Homo sapiens: one gene and its partner. The protein of the gene in region 1 purifies or fractionates together with the protein of each later gene. This does not show direct contact. Each region holds a gene or a part of one and is shown in the gene's direction. Other genes may lie near its edges.

Region 1 (4,252 bases):
CAATTTTTGTTATCACTAGGAGTGAAAGCTGGACATTGAAGAAGCCAAAATCTGTTTCCAAGAAACTAAAGAGTGTATTCCGAGTACCAGATCTGAGTGGGATGCTGCAAGTTCTTAAAGGTAAGGGGATTCAGGGGAAGGCTGTGAATGTGGATTTCTTAGTATCAGGGCTCAATAGGGAAGCGGGAGGTTTTTTTAGGTTAGGATATAGGAGAGGAGGTGGGCCAGAGAAGGAGGAAAATCCTGTGCTGTAGATGTGGTCCTGTCTTAGGGGGAATGACCAGGTGTCTGATTCATCCTCTCATTCACCAGTGCAAAGAATCCCAGTATTCCCCCTTTCCTTTCCCTACTCTGGAGAAGAGACAGGTGTCAGTACTTACTTATTTGCTTCTAACAACATCACTGAAACTTTTGTCGTTTCAGAGCTGACAGATGTCCAGTACTACTGGGGTAAGATGATATGGGGTTTTCAAATCACTTCCTTTCAGAATTGTGGTTACTATTAGATCTCATAATCTGAGTCTCATGTGTTCCTCCCCAAACATGCTTAAACCATGTAGTTCTTTTTTTTTTTTTTTTTAAGATAGATTTTTGCTATTGTTGCCCAGGCTGGAGTGCAATGGCGCGGTCTCGGCTCACTGCAACCTCTGCCTCCTGGGTTCAAGCGATTCTGCTGCCTCAGCCTCCCAAGTAGCTGGGATTACAGGCGTGTGCCACCACGCTTGGCTAATTTTTATAGTCTTACACCCTGTATTTCTTAAGGGTCCTACTAACCTCTGACTATCAACACAAGTTCCGTTTGATATCGACACAAGTTTCATTTTCAATATGTCTCTTCTCAATGCTGTAAGACACACCTATCCCATATCCTTCACTTGACTTGGTAATTTTTTCTACAGTGGACGTGATGCTGAATCCAGGCAGTGCCACTTCGAATGTTGCTATTTCTGTGGATCAGAGACAAGTGAAAACTGTACGCACCTGCACATTTAAGAATTCAAATCCATGTGATTTTTCTGCTTTTGGTGTCTTCGGCTGCCAATATTTCTCTTCGGGGAAATATTACTGGGAAGTAGATGTGTCTGGAAAGATTGCCTGGATCCTGGGCGTACACAGTAAAATAAGTAGTCTGAATAAAAGGAAGAGCTCTGGGTTTGCTTTTGATCCAAGTGTAAATTATTCAAAAGTTTACTCCAGATATAGACCTCAATATGGCTACTGGGTTATAGGATTACAGAATACATGTGAATATAATGCTTTTGAGGACTCCTCCTCTTCTGATCCCAAGGTTTTGACTCTCTTTATGGCTGTGCCTCCCTGTCGTATTGGGGTTTTCCTAGACTATGAGGCAGGCATTGTCTCATTTTTCAATGTCACAAACCACGGAGCACTCATCTACAAGTTCTCTGGATGTCGCTTTTCTCGACCTGCTTATCCGTATTTCAATCCTTGGAACTGCCTAGTCCCCATGACTGTGTGCCCACCGAGCTCCTGAGTGTTCTCATTCCTTTACCCACTTCTGCATAGTAGCCCTTGTGCTGAGACTCAGATTCTGCACCTGAGTTCATCTCTACTGAGACCATCTCTTCCTTTCTTTCCCCTTCTTTTACTTAGAATGTCTTTGTATTCATTTGCTAGGGCTTCCATAGCAAAGCATCATAGATTGCTGATTTAAACTGTAATTGTATTGCCGTACTGTGGGCTGGAAATCCCAAATCTAGATTCCAGCAGAGTTGGTTCTTTCTGAGGTCTGCAAGGAAGGGCTCTGTTCCATGCCTCTCTCCTTGGCTTGTAGAAGGCATCTTGTCCCTATGACTCTTCACATTGTCTTTATGTACATCTCTGTGCCCAAGTTTTCCCTTTTTATTAAGACACCAGTCATACTGGCTCAGGGCCCACCGCTAATGCCTTAATGAAATCATTTTAACATTATATTCTCTACAAAGACCTTATTTCCAAATAAGATAATATTTGGAGGTATTGGGAATAAAAACTCCAACATATAAATTTGAGGAAGGCACGATTTCACTCATAACAATCTTACCCTTTCTTGCAAGAGATGCTTGTACATTATTTTCCTAATACCTTGGTTTCACTAGTAGTAAACATTATTATTTTTTTTATATTTGCAAAGGAAACATATCTAATCCTTCCTATAGAAAGAACAGTATTGCTGTAATTCCTTTTCTTTTCTTCCTCATTTCCTCTGCCCCTTAAAAGATTGAAGAAAGAGAAACTTGTCAACTCATATCCACGTTATCTAGCAAAGTACATAAGAATCTATCACTAAGTAATGTATCCTTCAGAATGTGTTGGTTTACCAGTGACACCCCATATTCATCACAAAATTAAAGCAAGAAGTCCATAGTAATTTATTTGCTAATAGTGGATTTTTAATGCTCAGAGTTTCTGAGGTCAAATTTTATCTTTTCACTTACAAGCTCTATGATCTTAAATAATTTACTTAATGTATTTTGGTGTATTTTCCTCAAATTAATATTGGTGTTCAAGACTATATCTAATTCCTCTGATCACTTTGAGAAACAAACTTTTATTAAATGTAAGGCACTTTTCTATGAATTTTAAATATAAAAATAAATATTGTTCTGATTATTACTGAAAAGATGTCAGCCATTTCAATGTCTTGGGAAACAATTTTTTGTTTTTGTTCTGTTTTCTTTTTGCTTCAATAAAACAATAGCTGGCTCTACTGAAGTCTCATTCTTCAGTTTCCAAAATCTTGCTGCAGATAATATGAGTTTCCATATGTCCAGTAAAGAAGGTCATGTCTAGGCTCAGCTGTCCTTGATAAGAGACAGCCTTATGCTGTTCAGATCTGTTTCTCGTAATGAAACACTTGTGTGTACCATTGCATTTACCATCCTAGGTACTTTTCTTTTTTTTTTTTTTTAAGTCTTTTTTCAAACACAGGATGAGTAGTAGAACTACCTAGGATAGCAAAGACACAAAACATTCTTGAAGAAATATATTGTATTAGTCGGGGTTCTCCAGAGAAACAGAACAATAAGAGATATGTATTTATTATGAGGAATTGGCTTACTTGATTATGGAGGCTAAGACTTCCCATTATCTGCCATTTGGAAACCAGAGACCCAAAAGCTGGTGATATAAGTCAGTGTGTCTCTGAAGCCCTAAGAACCAGGGAGCTGATGGTATAAATGCCAGTACAAAGGCAGAAAAAGATGAGGTGACATGTCTCAGCTCAAGTACTGCGGCAGGAAAAGAAGCAAATATCTTCTTCCTCAACCCTTTCTCCTACTCAGATCCTTTATGGATTAGATGATGTCCAGCAACTTGGGGGAGGGCAAGCTTTGGAGAGGTAGCCATTACTGAGTCCAGCTATTCAGGTGCTAATCTTTTTCAGAAACACCCTTACAAATACAACCAGAAACACCCTTACAAATACAACCAGAAATACCCTTACAAATACCACCAGAAATAATGTTTAATCCGGGCAATCTATGACCAGTCAAATTAGCATGTAAAATTAACCATCATGTATACATTATAAATTAGGGCAGGTTATGCCATTGTACAGAATTCACATCAAGATTTGTTGGACTTTGAAGAAAGGAATAGTGTGAAAGTGCCTGGCTTGAGATTGATATAGACATGTATACACATTCATTCATATATCTATACATATAGGTATATATACATATAATAATATGTATAAATATATTATAGATACACACATGAACATTATCCAAGATAATCTGTACAAATATCATAAAAAGGAGATTTTTTTTTTTTTTTCTGAGACGGAATTTTGCTGTTGTTGCCCAGGCTGGAGTGCAATGGGACGATCTCGGCTCACTGCAATGGCACAATCTCTGCTCACTGCAACCTCTGCCTCCTGGGTTCAAGCAATTCTCCTGCCTCAGCCTCCCGAGTAGCTGGGATTACAGGCACGTGCCACCATGCCCGGCTAATTTTTTTTGTATTTTTGGTAGAGATGGGGCTTCGCCATGTTGGCCAGGCTGATCTCGAACTCCTGACCTCAGGTGATCTGCCTGTCTTGGCCTCCCAAAGTGCTGGGATTACAGGCGTGAGCTACCGTGCCTGGCCAAAGAGAAATTTATATAAAGGGGTTGAAGGAGTCAATAAGCTGTTAGAGTTTTCCTGATGGTCCCAAAGCTATTGAGTAGAAGAGGCAGGATTAATACCAGGCCTGTGTTACTAAGCACCTATGCTCACTCCTCTGTACCACACTGCCATGGAGAAGGCCGCA
Region 2 (3,500 bases), on another chromosome or scaffold:
TTCCATTTGTTTGTGTCATCTGATTTCTTTTAGCAGTGTTTTGTAGTTTTCCTTGTAGAGGTCTTTTACTTCCTTAGTTAGGTATATTCCTAGGTTTTGCAGCTATTGTAAAAGGGGTTGAGTTGTTGATTTGATTTGCAGCTTGTTTGCTGTTGCTGTATAGCAGTACTACTGATTTATGTACATTGATTTTGTATCCTGAAACCTAACAGAATTCATTTATCAGATCTAGGAGCTTTTTGGATGAGTTTTTAGGGTTTTCTAGGTATACAATCATATCATTTACTAACAGTGACAGGTTGACTTCCTCTTTACCAATTTGGATGCCTTTTAATTTCTCTTTTCTGACTGACTGTGGCTGGCTAGGGCTTCCACTACTATGTTGAATAGAAGTGGTGAAAGTGGGCATCCTTGTCTTTTTCCAGTTCTCATGGGGAATGCTTTCAACTTTTCCCCGTTCAGTATAACGTTGGCTGTGGGTTTGTCATGGATGGCTTTTATTACCTTCAAGTATGTTCCTTCTATGCTGATTTTGCTGAGTGTTTTCATCATAAAGGGATGCTGGATTTTGTCAGACGTTTTTTCTGCTTCTATTGAAGTGATCATGTGTTTTCGTTTGTTTTTCTCTTAGAGTTTCGCTCTTGTTGCCCAGGCTGGGGTGCAGTGGTACCATCTCAGCTCACTGCAACCTCCACCACCCAGGTTCAAGGGATTCTCCTGCCTCAGCCTCCCAAGTAGCTGAGATACCACATCTGGCTAATTTTTGTATTTTTAGATGGGGTTTCACCATGTTGGCCAGGCTGGTCTCAAACTCCTGACCTCAAGTGATCTGCCCTCCTCGGCCTCCCAAAGTGCTGGGATTACAGGCATGAGCCACCGCACCCGGCCTGATTTTTGTTTTTAATTCTGTTTATATGGTGTATCACATGTATTGACTTGTGTATATTAAACTTTCCCTGCATCCCTGGTTTGAAATCCATTTGATCATGGTAGATTATCTTTTTGATATACTGTTGGATTTGGTTAGCTAGTATTTTGTTGAGGATTTTTGCATCTATGTTCATCAGGGATATTGGTCTGTAGTTTTCTTTTTTGTCATGTCCTTTCCTGGTTTTGGTATTAGAGTGATACTGGCTTCATAGGATGATTTAGGGAGTATTCCCTCTTTCTCTTTTGGAATGGTTTCAGTAAGATTGGTACCAGTTCTTCTTTGAATGTCTGATAGAATTCAGCAGTGAATCCATCTGGTCCTGGACTTTTTCTTCTTGGCAATTTTTTTATTACCATTTCAATCTAAGTGCTTGTTATTGGTCTGTTCAGAGTTCTTATTTCTTCCTGGTTTAATCTAGGAGGTTGTATATTTCCAGGAATTTATCCATCTCCTCTAGGTTTTCTAGTTTGTGAGCACAAATGTGTTCATAGTAGCCTTGAATGATCTTTTGTATTTCTGTGGTATTCGTTGTTAATATTTCCTGTTTCATTTCTAATTGAACTTATTTGGATCTTCTCTCTTCTTTTCTTGGTTAATCTCACTAATGGGCTATCAATTTTGTTTATCTTTTCAAAGAACCAGCTTTTTGTTTCATTTATCTTTTGTATTTTGTTGTTGTTGTTTCATTTTTATTAAGTTCTACTCTGGTCTTTGTTATATCTTTCCTCCTCCTGGGTTTGGGTTTGGTTTGTTCTTATTTCTCTAGTTCTTGAGGTGTGACCTTAGATTGTCAATTTGTGCTCTTTCAGACTTTTTGATGTAGGCACTTAATGCTGTGAACTTTCCTCTTAGCACTGCTTTTGCTGTATCTTAGAGGTTTTGTTAGGTTGTGTCACTTTTTTCATTCAGTTCAAAGAATTTTTTTAATTTCCAGCTTGATTTTGATTTCATTATTGACCCAAAGATCATTCAGGAGCGGATTATTTAATGTTGCATGGTTCTAAGAATTCCCTTTGGAGTTGACTTCCAATTTTATTCCACTATGGTCTGAGAGAGTACTTGATATAATTTTGATTTTCTTAAATTTATTGAGACTTGTTTTGTGGCCTATCATATGGTCTCTATCTTGGAGAATGTTCCATGAATGTTCTGATGAATAGAATGTATATTCTGCAGTTGTTGGGTAGAATGTTCTGTAAATACCTGTTAAGTCCATTTGTTCTAGGGTATAAGTCCATTGTTTCTATGTTGACTTACTGTATTGAAGTCCCCCACTATGAGATGAGATTCTATTTTTGTGTATTTCAAGGTTTTGCTCTAAGATTTAGAACTCCTTTTAGCAGTTTTTGTAAACTATGCTGGCTTGGTAGTGGCAAATTCTCTCAGCGTTTGAAAAAGACTTTCATCTTTTCTTCATTTATGAAGCTTAGTTTCACTGGATACAAAATTCTTGGCTGATAATTATTTTGTCAGCTAATAATTATTTAATAAGGCTAAAGATAAGACCTTTATCCCCTCTAGCTTGTAGAGTATCTGCTGTTAATCTGATAGGTTTTTCCTTTACAGGTTACCTGATGCTTTTGCCTCCCAGCTCTTAAGATTTTTTCCTTCATCTTGACTTTAGATAGCCTGATGACTGTGTGTCTAGGTGATGATCTTTTTGTGATGAATTTCCTGGGTGTTCTTTGAGCTTCTTGTATTTGGATGTCTAGATCTCGAGCAAGGCCAGAGAAGTTTTTATTCTTTTGCCTTTGTCTTTGTTGAATTGGGTTAATTCAAGAGCCTTGTCTTTGAGCTCCAAAATTCTTTCTTCTACTTGTTTGGTTCTATTGTTAAAACTTTCCAGTGTATTTTGCATTTCTCTAAATGTGTCTTTCATTTCCAGAAGTCATGATTGTTTTTTATTTATGATATCTATTTCTCTGGAGATTTTTTTCGTCTACATCCTGTTTTGTTTTATTTTTAAATTTAAGTTGGTTTTCATCTTTCTCTGGTGCTTCCTTGAGTAGCTTAATAATTGACCTTCTAAATTCTTTTCTGGCAATTCAAAGATTTATTATTGGTTTGGATCCATTGCTGGTAAGCTAGTATAATCTTTTAGGGGTGGTTATAGAACCTTGTTTTGTCATATTACCTGAATTGTTTTTCTGGTTCCTTCTCGTTTGGGTGGACTATGTCAGAAGAAAGATCTGGGACTCAATGTGTGCTGTTTAAATTCTTTTGTCCCACAGAGTGATCCCTTGGTGTGGTGCTCTCCCCCTTCCCTAGGGGTGGGGCTTTCTGAGAGCTGGACTGCAGTGATTGTTATTGCTCTTCTGGGTCGAGCCACCCAGCAGAGCTACTGGGTTCTAGGCTGGTACTGGAGAGTGTCTGCTAAGAGTCCTGTGATGTGATCTGTCTTCAGGTCTGTATGCCATGGATACTAGCACCTGCTCTAATGGAGGTGGTAGGAAAGGAGTGAAGTGGACTGTGTGAGAGTACTTGGTTGTAGTTTTATTTAGTGTACTGGTTGTCTTGAATGCTAGTTATACTAGCACTGAAGTTATTACATGGACAGACTCAGGACCTC

Evidence for each region. The genes of interacting proteins can lie anywhere in the genome.
Region 2: the proteins of TRIM22 (region 1) and DTL purify together in Homo sapiens (affinity purification with western blotting; one study listed by BioGRID). This does not show direct contact.

Annotation. Positions count from the first base shown.
Region 1 is NC_000011.10:5,708,154-5,712,405, forward strand, and holds the end of TRIM22 (E3 ubiquitin-protein ligase TRIM22), read left to right. Parts: intron 1-19; coding exon 20-120; intron 121-423; coding exon 424-450; intron 451-899; coding exon 900-1,495; 3' UTR 1,496-2,710; downstream 2,711-4,252. UniProt on the Homo sapiens protein: Interferon-induced E3 ubiquitin ligase that plays important roles in innate and adaptive immunity.
Region 2 is NC_000001.11:212,094,748-212,098,247, forward strand, and holds part of DTL (denticleless protein homolog), read left to right. Parts: intron 1-3,500. UniProt on the Homo sapiens protein: Substrate-specific adapter of a DCX (DDB1-CUL4-X-box) E3 ubiquitin-protein ligase complex required for cell cycle control, DNA damage response and translesion DNA synthesis.